Regions from separate parts of the Homo sapiens genome. Here regions 2 and 3 are each reported to be linked to region 1. Evidence: microRNA targets listed by miRTarBase, many of them from high-throughput screens and not tested one by one. Region 1 holds a microRNA gene; each other region holds the end of a gene's coding sequence. Distances are from middle to middle.
Evidence for each region. Region 1 holds the annotated microRNA hsa-miR-203a-3p (GUGAAAUGUUUAGGACCACUAG, at 2,952-2,973, shown strand). A microRNA usually pairs through its seed, bases 2 to 8, with sites in the 3' UTR of a target mRNA and lowers its output. Matches are read on the target gene's strand: a 7mer-m8 pairs with bases 2 to 8, a 7mer-A1 pairs with bases 2 to 7 and ends in A, and an 8mer does both.

Region 2: miRTarBase lists DNAAF2 as a target of hsa-miR-203a-3p. The part of its 3' UTR that is shown has no 7-base or 8-base seed match.
Region 3: miRTarBase lists GDAP1 as a target of hsa-miR-203a-3p. Seed matches in the 3' UTR shown: 7mer-m8 at 997-1,003 and 7mer-m8 at 1,759-1,765.

What each region holds. Positions count from the first base shown.
Region 1 is chr14:104,114,518-104,118,860 of GRCh38, forward strand. It overlaps MIR203A (microRNA 203a), which reads left to right and starts at 2,888; the gene lies at 2,888-2,997. ASPG (asparaginase) reads left to right here. Exons shown (of 16, transcript NM_001080464.3): 16 at 1-1,065. It overlaps MIR203B (microRNA 203b), which reads right to left and starts at 2,986; the gene lies at 2,901-2,986.
Region 2 is chr14:49,622,809-49,625,808 of GRCh38, forward strand. It overlaps DNAAF2 (dynein axonemal assembly factor 2), which reads right to left. Exons shown (of 3, transcript NM_018139.3): 3 at 2,366-3,000. The coding sequence ends at 2,734. It overlaps MGAT2 (alpha-1,6-mannosyl-glycoprotein 2-beta-N-acetylglucosaminyltransferase), which reads left to right. Exons shown (of 1, transcript NM_002408.4): 1 at 1-673. Among named protein-coding and RNA genes, the nearest start is that of MGAT2, 3.5 kb to the left of the region's middle.
Region 3 is chr8:74,363,975-74,366,974 of GRCh38, forward strand. GDAP1 (ganglioside induced differentiation associated protein 1) reads left to right here. Exons shown (of 6, transcript NM_018972.4): 6 at 11-2,902. The coding sequence ends at 393. Among named protein-coding and RNA genes, the nearest start is that of GDAP1, 15 kb to the left of the region's middle.

The sequences.
Region 1 (4,343 bases):
TCTGGGAGCTTTCTCGGGGGCCGTTTTGTGCCCCTTGGGGAGAGGCCAGAGGGGCCCTGGGTAAGGGGACTCCTCTAGAATCACCCAGAAGTGGCAGGAGGTGCAGGGCCACTGCTCGGGGCTCCCTGGGCTCTGAGCTGGGCAGTGACCTGGCCCCAAGGCCTCTGGCTCTCTGGCGTGCAGTGGGAACAGCCGGGACAGACAGGCTTGGAGCGTTCGTGTCCTGCGCCGCGTTGGTGTGTTTCGTCCCCACTGTGCCTGTAGGAGGGCACCGGGTCCCCGTCTATCCTACTTCATGGCTGAGGAAGCTAAGGCACAGAGTGGCCCCGTCCTGCGCCCAGGGCTCTGCGTTGGCACAGGGCAGAGCTGGGCTGTGAATCAGGGCCGCCTTGTCTCTTGCTGTGGTGTGAGGCTGTGGGAGACTCAGGAATGAGGCACAGCCAGGTGCCCAGTGCCCGTGGGACCCGCCTCCCCACAGTGGGGTGGCGCCGCTCACACCTGGTAATTTCACGCTGGGGGAGGCCTTGGTTCCTATAGCCCATCTCGAATCACCTGGATCCCAGGGCTATCTCTGGGGAACATCTCCTCTCCATCACGACTACTGTCTTTTTCACCAGCATTTTCTATCCTAAAATCAGACTCCTCAGCTGAGGGCCCTCCAGGACCGCCCTTCCCCAGCTGGAGGTAACCAGATTTCTCGTGTATGCTAGGAAGTTCCCCTTCTGGTCACACCTCAATATTTCCTGCTGCTGGTGGGAACTGCAGGTGCTTGTACTTGTCACCTTCTCCCCGTCCTCTCTCGTCAGTTCCCTTGGATGCTGGACACGGGAGCCACCTGGGCGAGGGGAGCCCATCCAAGTGGCTGTGCGTCGGGAAGAGTCTGCCCAGGACTGGGCTAGACCAGAACTTAGAATTAAGGAGTGGTGGCCAGGCTTGGTGGCTCACACCTGCAATCCCAGCACTTTGGGAGGCCGAGGCGGGTGGATAGCTTGAGCCTAGGAGTTTGAGAACAGCCAACATGGCGAAACTCTGTCTCTTAAAAAATAAATAAAAACATTAGCCAGGTGTGGTGGTTTGTGTCTGTGGTCCCAGCTACTTGGGAGGCTGAGGTGGGAGAATCGCTTGAACTGGGAAGATGGAGGTTGCAGCGAGCCAAGATCGCACCACTGCACTCCAGCCTGGGCAACACAGCAAGACTAGGTCTCAAAAAAAAAGAAAAAAAAAAAGAAAAGAAGAGAGGTGGGTTCTTCTTGCCCATGCAGTTGTGTTGGGGGAGGAGCTCCCAAGCTCCTGTTCTTGATCTCAAGCTCCCCTATGCCCACTTCCATCCCCACCCCCATGCCGCAGCCCCTCGGACTCCACACCCAGGCACTGAGACCCACAGATGCAGCGATGGCAAGGCCTGTCATCCCTTCTCTACCACCAAGAGCTGTGCAATCCCCAGAAGTCACTGTCCCTCCCTGAGCCTCAGTTTCCCCAACTGCAAAATGAAAATAACAAAACCTTTCTGATTCCCTTTCCAGGGTGGCTGCGGTGGTTGAGCCACACGCGGCCCATGTGGAAATGTCTGGGGGGTCCCTCAGATCTGGTGGCTGTGTTCTGGTCTGGGGCTCACCTTGGCTCCTGAGCACTTGGCTCCTGGCTGGCTGGGCGGGTGGTGGGATGGCGTGTCACCGCCCTGCACTGGAATGAATGGTCACCACCCTGCTGCCCAACCCCATACAGACACACTAATGGCTCCAGACTTGGGGCAAGTGCTGAAGGGGGCTCTAGGGTATTTCCTAGAGCCTGAGCCCTCCCCTCAGCTGCCATGTTCTGCTGAAGCAGAGTCCCTGGGAGGCGCCACTGGTCAGGCCTGGACACCTCCAGGTGACTAAGTGGGTAGGACCGGCAGGGCCAGCTGCGCCAGGACGTTCGGGGCTGGGCTGTGAGTGGGGGGAGCGAGGCTCAGGCCCTTGCTGCGTGAGGGGGTAGGGCGTCCCTCCCCCCGCGTGGGAAATGAGGAGGCAGGTACGGGGCTACCCCTGTGGGCTGCGGGGTGGGGGTTCAGGGTCTGAGAAGCAGAAACCTCCCTCCCTCCAGTTTCACTTTCTCTTTACCCCTCCCCTTCCCCCTCCCACGAAGTTCCCTTTGAAGTGAGAGGGGCTGGGGTGGGTGTGTCCAGCCCAGCCCCCACACCCACCGGAGAGCTAGCGCGGCCCTGGGCTCCTGTCGGGCGCTGGTCCTCACCTGTTCCGGCCACCCTGGGCCTCGACCCGGCCAAGGTGGAGCCCCGGGCCCTCCGTGCGCCCGAGCACCCCCGGCCCAGACGAGACGGTTCGGGCGTGGCCCGGCGGGGACCCAGAACCCGGGAGGCCAGGTGCGCCCAGGCCAGGCGCTGGAGGCTGGGGCGCCGGATGGGGCGGGGCGGCCGCTGAGTCAGGGCCACCCCCGCGCGGGCGCGCGGAGCAGGTCCCCGGGCCGTGGAGGATCAGTCGCGGGACCTATGGGCCCGGGAGCCGCCCCGCCCGGAAAAACCGGTCGGGCCAGCGCGGCGCGGGCACATTCCGGCGCCGGGAAGGGCGGCTGCGCCGCATAAAAGGCGCCGCCGCGCTGGCCACCGCCGCTCGGAGCTCAGCCGCCCTGCCACGCGGGGCCCGCGGGACGAGGGGACGCCGGGGCCAGCGAGGACGCGGCGGGGCTGGGCTTGGCGGCTGGGATCCCCCAGCGCCAGGCGAGGGCGTCTAAGGCGTCCGGTACGGCGTCGGGGCCGGGTGGCTGCAGCAGGGCAGGGGGTGCGCGACCAGCGGGGATCTGGGCGCAGGGGCCGGTCCCCGGGATCCGCAGGCGACGCGGGCGGTCCCAAGGGCGTCGGGGGCTCCTCTCTCCGCAGCTCGGCGAACCGACGGTGTTGGGGACTCGCGCGCTGGGTCCAGTGGTTCTTAACAGTTCAACAGTTCTGTAGCGCAATTGTGAAATGTTTAGGACCACTAGACCCGGCGGGCGCGGCGACAGCGACGGAGCGTCCCACGCGCGGCCTGGAGTCAGAGTCACAGTCAGGGGTGCGCCGGCGACCAATCCAGGGGAGCCCACGGACCGGCTCCGCGCTCCAGGTCGGCCGCCCCATGCGCCGCGCCCCGCAGTCCCCAGGGCCTGGCTGGCTCCACCTGCTGCCAGGGAAGACCCTCGGCCGGAGAGCCAAGTGCTGCTGGGAGGTGGCCGGGCGTGGCCGGGCTGTGCTGTGGGAACCGCTGGGTGGGGGCGCGCTGGGTTGCCCACGCTCCTGGCGCGCTGCCGGCCTGGAGACGCCGCCGCCGCCCTCTTGCACCCCGAGGGCCCGCACCTCGAAACTCCGTGGAATTCCCAGCGAGGAACTGGCGGTGGGCCCGTAGGGTTGAGGAGCGCTCCTTGCCCTGGGCTTCCTGGGAGCTGCCCATCAGGCTGCCGGCAGCCGCACCCTGCTGGGCGGCCGATGGTTCCCGCTGCCGGCTCCCCGGAGCGTCTCCACTCACTGAGGCCTTAGGGAGCGCTGCGCGGCTCCTACGAGTGCGCGCTAAACTCGTGAAGGACCTCGAGGCACAGGAACTGGGGGTGGGGAGGAAGTTTGCAGACTACACCCAGGTAGAGGAGAAGCGGCGCCCATGATGACAGGTGCCTTCGCCGGAGCCTCCCTGGAACCTCGTGGTAGCTAGCGCCCACAGGAGAGGTGTGCGCGTCAATCTGCGTGTGAAGCCCCGGGCGGCCCTGGGAGGGACTCAGCAAAGGGTCGAATCTGTCCCCACCTCCAGCCAGGGGCCGGGGTCTTCTGCCTGGTGCTGCCTGGCCTGCTGTGTCCTCTGGGGTGGAGGGTCCCCCTCCAGTCCCCACCTCCTCACCCAGTGTTTAGAGAGCTGCGGGGAGTCCTGGGAGATGGGTCAGACAGGCCTGGGTTTGAGGCCTGCTAGGGTGGCCTTGGGCCAGTCACCTGCCCTCTCTGAGCCCGACCTGCACACATAGGGGGTTGATGTGAGGAGACAGGAGGTGACTGTGGAGGGCTGTTCCAGAAGAGGGCCAGCAGCAGGACAGCAAGGTCCCCTGGCCACCCAGGTGGGGGGAGTGGAGTTCCCGGGAGAGCATCCACCACTGGCCAGTGCCTCCTCTGTTGCTCAGCAAATGCCATTGTGGCCACCTCTCAGGATCTGGCTTCAGAGCTTGGGGCCGTGGGAGCGCCCAGTGGGTCTGTGGCATCGGAGGGGTTGGAGTGTCTTCCCCAGCTGCTGCCTGCTGACCACCGCAGCCCCCTGTAGCCATTTCATTTTACAAGCACGTTCCCCCGTGCCCTCTGCATGGGCCCTCAGCCCTCAGCAGCCCCGTGAGAGGGGCTG
Region 2 (3,000 bases), 54 Mb from region 1:
TAGGGTTTTAAAGCTCAATCTGTTATCTGCTAAAATTGATTATTGTTGATATGAGAGAAGAGGGGAAATTTTATTTAAATTGCATTTATTAATCTTTTTATCTGAAACTTTGTACACTTTTCCACTTTCAAAACCTATTTTAAGTACAGCAAAATTTATTTAAAACTGTCATAGCAGTAAAAAGTATTACGATGAAATTGTTAGGGTATTAATGGAACAAACCCAGTTTCACTCTCTTGACACACTTATTAGGAAGGGATTGCTTCACTGGTTTAATAATTTAAAAGTTATGTTTGTTAAACACCCTGTCAGAACAGTCATTTTCAGTATTAGATTCCTGTACTATTGTGTTTTGAGTGTGTTTTGGAACCTTCATAGAACACACTTTCTTTTGGAATGTATTTGATTGATAAGAAAGTTTAAACATTGTTTTCACCTCAATGTAGAAATACAGTGGTTTTGTTTTTTTTTTTCTTTTAGTGCTGACAAAATAAAATACTCATTTTTGCATAAAAAGGTTCCTAATCCTTTTGCAGAATAAGTTTTGTTTACTCTTTATACCAAAATTCAGTGAAGGCATTCTACAAGTTTTGAGTTAGCATTACATTTTAATATTTACTATTGCTACATTGTATAATTGAGTTTGAAATAAAACCCAGCTTATGACAATGCATTCCCTGTGCAAGAAACTGTTTGGCTTTCAAATTACCCAGGCATTGAAAATGAATGATAAAAAGTTGCTGTGTAAGGGAAATACAGCCTAAATTGTTTTTGAAAGCCAGAAATGATACAAAGTTCAGTCATGCCAAAGTGAAATACTTTCTAGTGCCAGCTTTAACTTAAATCATACGTTTTAAAAGGACAGATACAGAAAATTATAGGAAACAGGCTTAAATTTTGCTCCATATTTAATGTAGACGTTTATAGAAGTTTCCCTTAATTTGTAATTGCATTCAACCGAGAATTTCTCATAAAAGACTAATTTCTGTGTAAAGATATTACGGGCTGGGTGTGGTGGCTCATGTCTGTAATCCCAGCACTCTGGGAGGTTGAGGCAGGCAGATTGCTTGAACTCAAGAGTTTGAGACCAGCCTGGGCAACATGGCGAAAACCCATCTCTACTAAAAATACAAAAAATTAGCCGGGTGTAGTGGTGCATCTGTAGTCCCAGCTACTTGAGAGGCTGAGGTGGGAGGATCCTTTGAGTCTCGAGGCAGAGGTTGCAGTGAGCCTAGAGCGTGCCACTGCACGCCAGCCTGAGCAACAGAGCAAGGCTCCATCTAAAGAAAAAAAAAAAAAGTTACTTAAACTTGTAACTATTAAATGGCAGTCTCAAAATTATTGCATCAATTTAAGATTCATAGTAGTTTAAGAGCACATATGCTTATCTAAGGTGAGGCAAATAGTTCTCTTGCTTTACGAGCTACCTTTAGACTTACCCACGGCCCAGTCTGGTGCAAGATTTTGCCTGGGGGTTATAAATAAGGGTGAATCAGGAGGCTTTGTACCTATTTCTGGTACTCTGACCTGACATCACTAGTTCAAAGAACTAAAAAATTAGGTTATTTCCAGGACTGAGCTAAGAAGGCCAGAGTGTGAAGTAGTAGCTGTTTTTGAAACAAATAGATCAGCTCCTGGCTTTGGGGTTAGTGATTAAATCAACAAATATTTCCCTTTCTGTATTTCCTTCCTTTCATTTTCTTTGGCTGCCCTAAAATTTTTTGTAAGAAAAAAACCTGTTAGGATCTTCTCTTTGCCTCACATTTTAGGTGTTATAAAGGAAATTGATTATGCAGGAGGCTGAGATGAGAGGATCACTTGAGCCTAAGAGTTTGAATCCAGTCTGGACAACATAGCAAGACCCATCTCTTAAAAAAAAAGAAAGTGATTAGGAAACACTGGCTTTTTTTTGTTTTTCTGTGTAATAATGTAATGAAGGCAATTTTCCTATCAGAGCAAATTGCCAGATTTTAAAAATTCCAGTTTTACTCTTAAATTTCTATAAAACCACAAGATGTTTTAATATTTCAATAACTTCTAAGAAATACTTCAAAATTGAATTTTGAAAATCATTACTAAATAACTAAATCTATTATATATACTTTATGTAACAAAAATATATATAGTTTGTGTGACAAAATATAGAGCTGATGAAAAGTACTACATTTTATCTGGTGAATTTGTATCGTAATTGTTTAGATTAATATTGGTTAGTAAAGTTCTTTCCCCTCTAAGCTCTATTTCAAGCTTAAATATGTCCTACTTAGTGAGACTGAGAAACAGTTTTGAAATTCTACCCCCCACACATGTACTTATAATTCCAGTTAAATGCATTCTTGAGAATTACTTTGTGTGACAAACACAATTAGTGAATATTTTTAAATTTTATTAATGACAAAGCAAAATTTAACACAGAAGTATATATACATAGGTTGTATTAAAACTAAATGTTTTAACTCTCAAATGTTTTAACTCTCAAATAGAAAACATACACATCTATTACAGGAATCACAAAACTTATCTCCATAAGGAAACTTTAAACTCCAGAGGCAAAAAAAAAAAAATTATCTCCAATTTCCCCCATGAGAATCAAAATTGCAATTTTTTAAAAAAAATTGCAAATTTTAATTTTATACTTTAATACCTTTAGTTTTAAGACAACAGTTAACAGAATCAATTTTAGATACAGGTATTTTTTAACCTTAATATTTAAAAGTCCAAAATTATATAGAATTAATCCAAATCATATAGCAAAGAATTCTGAAAACTGAATGCACAATTGGTCACATGATCTTTAATGACCTGCACACTACCATCCTGCATATTGGTTTCTTTTATGCTGTCGAATCCAGGTATATTGTGAACCGTAGTTTTGTTCAGTAATGAAGATAGGTGATCTCCATCTGTTTCTTTCTCTTCAGTTATTACTGACTCGTTTAAGTTATCTTTTTCCTCATTTGAACAAGTAGCACTTTTTTCTTTTATAAATTCAGATTGCAT
Region 3 (3,000 bases), not on the chromosome of region 1:
CTCTAATTAGAAGAGGGCCAGCAACCTTGGCTCTGCGGTGAATCCTTCACCCTGGCAGACGTCTCACTCGCTGTCACATTGCATCGACTGAAGTTCCTGGGGTTTGCAAGGAGAAACTGGGGAAACGGAAAGCGACCAAACTTGGAAACCTATTACGAGCGTGTCTTGAAGAGAAAAACATTTAACAAGGTTTTAGGACATGTCAACAATATATTAATCTCTGCAGTGCTGCCAACAGCATTCCGGGTGGCCAAGAAAAGGGCCCCAAAAGTTCTTGGCACGACCCTTGTGGTTGGTTTGCTTGCAGGAGTGGGATATTTTGCTTTTATGCTTTTCAGAAAGAGGCTTGGCAGCATGATATTAGCATTTAGACCCAGACCAAATTATTTCTAGGTTTGTTGGGATCTTGTCGTGGCAGCTCATCCAAGCATTTAGCTAGACCCTGTGATTGCCCGTGGCTCTCTGAGTCTGTCTTATTGAGTAGTTAGCAGTATTTTTTCCTAAAATTCAGAAGTCATCTTTGTTACACAACACAGGGGTTCAGGTAGCAATAGGACACAAAATTGCTTTATTCTACAACTGCCAGCTCCAGGCAGAAATAGGAAGGCAAAGAGATAAGAGAAGGAAAAATGAGAGAATGAAGTCTGTATAGGGTAGAGCAATAGAAAGTAAGCTTCGGGTGCCTCCAACGTTCATGGCTGCCTGTCTCATTGGTAAACCTCACATTTAGTTACTTGTGGCTACTGCCCACACATACACTTCTGTAATTGAGAACTCTTAGGAGAGGACTAGGGAATCACTGGGGATAGTGGGCTGGAGAGAACCCCAGGCTTTATATGTATACTTTGACCTCAGTGTTAATTTTAAATGCTTATGAATCACACACATTGCTTTAGTAAGATTAAGTGCTTATATACTAGAAATTTGATGCTCATTGGAACACATCTGCCTAGCATTTCTGTAAAAGTCTTAAGTGATATTAAGATGATTCCTTACCATTTCAGATGGTCCGCAATTTGAATTACCAAGTGGTAATGGTTCCTTACTGTTTTAGATGGTGCCTGTGAGATACCATTCCTCTGGATGGTCATGTCCAGTCAGTGGGAGGTAGAAAGGGTGGCATCTGTAGCCCTCTTCATACACATAAGTGGCATTTAGGTGAATGTCCCAGCTAATCACTAGCATGTCTAGGTATTGGCTGGGTAGTGGGTATTTTGATGATCTGGGAGCACCAAATATGTTCATTCTTCGTTTGGGGAGGCTGGTCTGTAAACACAAAAATTGTTGTCCAGATCTTTCATCTGTTTATGATCATCAACAAAGACTTGTTAGAAAGGTCTAGTCTTAGCACTTGGCAGTTAATCTAGGGAAGATGAATTAAATGGGTAGATAGTGATGCATACCTGTATTCACTGATGTATGTTTAAGGGATTTGGGGGGGATACCTCAGTTCATGTGGAAGGGACAGTCTCGGTGTGTCCCATGAATAACCTTGGAACTGCAACAAATGGTTTGTGCTCAGAAAAAGTCTTTCATGGTGACAGGAAGACAGTTTCCCTGGAGCTGGCCATGAAGGCCTTAGAAGCCATTTCTGGTGTCTGGTGGGTAGCAGGCATAGAGATGATGTGCCGAGGTCCCAGTGAACAACAGTAGCCAAAGAATGTACTAACTTTATCATTAATAGGAAAGTCATACCTAGGAAACAATGACTTTTTGATGGCAAAATGATTTTTTAATTCTATTTTGATGCTGTAATTCCATTTCATGACCTAGTTGTATTAGAAAACCTTGATGAACTATATGTTCCCGATTTACAAAAAAATTAATAAAACCTCCAGAGTAAACTCAGTCAAACAATAATTGAGTAGCAGCTTTTATAACATTTAAAATTTGCACATGAGTGTGTTGTCATATGGAGTGTCTGAATCTGTTGCTGGGACATACCAATCCATGTATTCATTAGAGCCATAGAAGTTATTATTCATTAGTTCATAGTGTTTGAGTTCTTTATGTCACTCTGTTAGAAACAAGAACTGAGTCGTGAAGAAATAAGAATTGGATTTTTATAAAAACCTCTGAAGGATATTTACCTATGAAAAAGTTGTTAAGAATAAAAATTAGAAGTCCATGGTTAACTTTTCCTTCAATTTATATTATTCCTGAATCATAGGGAATCTTTCTAGAATGTGTTTATAATTTCCTTGTACAGTTTCTTTGGAAATACGTTAAAGATAGTGGCAATTTCATATATTTCATGGATACTTGAGTTTGTGCTTTTAAGGTGTTTGTTTAGGGATACAATGACCACTAGATGTCGCTGTTTATCCAGTAGACTAAGATTGAGTGTTCTTTTTGTTCAGCAACTCTTCTAAAATGTTTCAAGCAAAGATAGTAATGACCTCAGTTTCTGAAATAAGGGCATCTTCATCAGATTATTCTTCTGTTTTAAAAAAAAGCTTGAGGCAAATGTGAGTGATTTCCAGTGCTTTGAAAGGGATTACAGTATCACACAATGTCAAGCTAGAGTTAAACACAGTATTAGCTAAATAGGCACTTATGTGTATTTTCTTTTTCATGATTATCGGTGACTGGTCAGTGTACTCATCAATTTCCAAAATTTGTATAAATATCACAATTAGAAAAATGCCTGAGGTACTAAAGTTATGTTGGCTTTTTGTGTCTTAACACACATAAATACTATTGTTATTGCAGCAGATGCCTTTTGAATCCATTTTCCATAATTGCGGATAGTCATAAATTGCTTGCTCAATTTTTAGTAATTATTGCTGTTGACACCAGCGTTGTAGATTTTTGGTGTTGTTGAATGCAGTAGAGAGACCAAGACACTATTCTGTAAGATCAATAAAAGTAATTGGAAAATAAATATGAACCCTAAAACAAAGTACTCACTTTGTAATCTTTTTTGGAAAACAGATATATTTTTTTCATTTAAAATCAAAGCATCATGTGGTAGTTAAAAGGGTAAAATAAGCAGAGGTT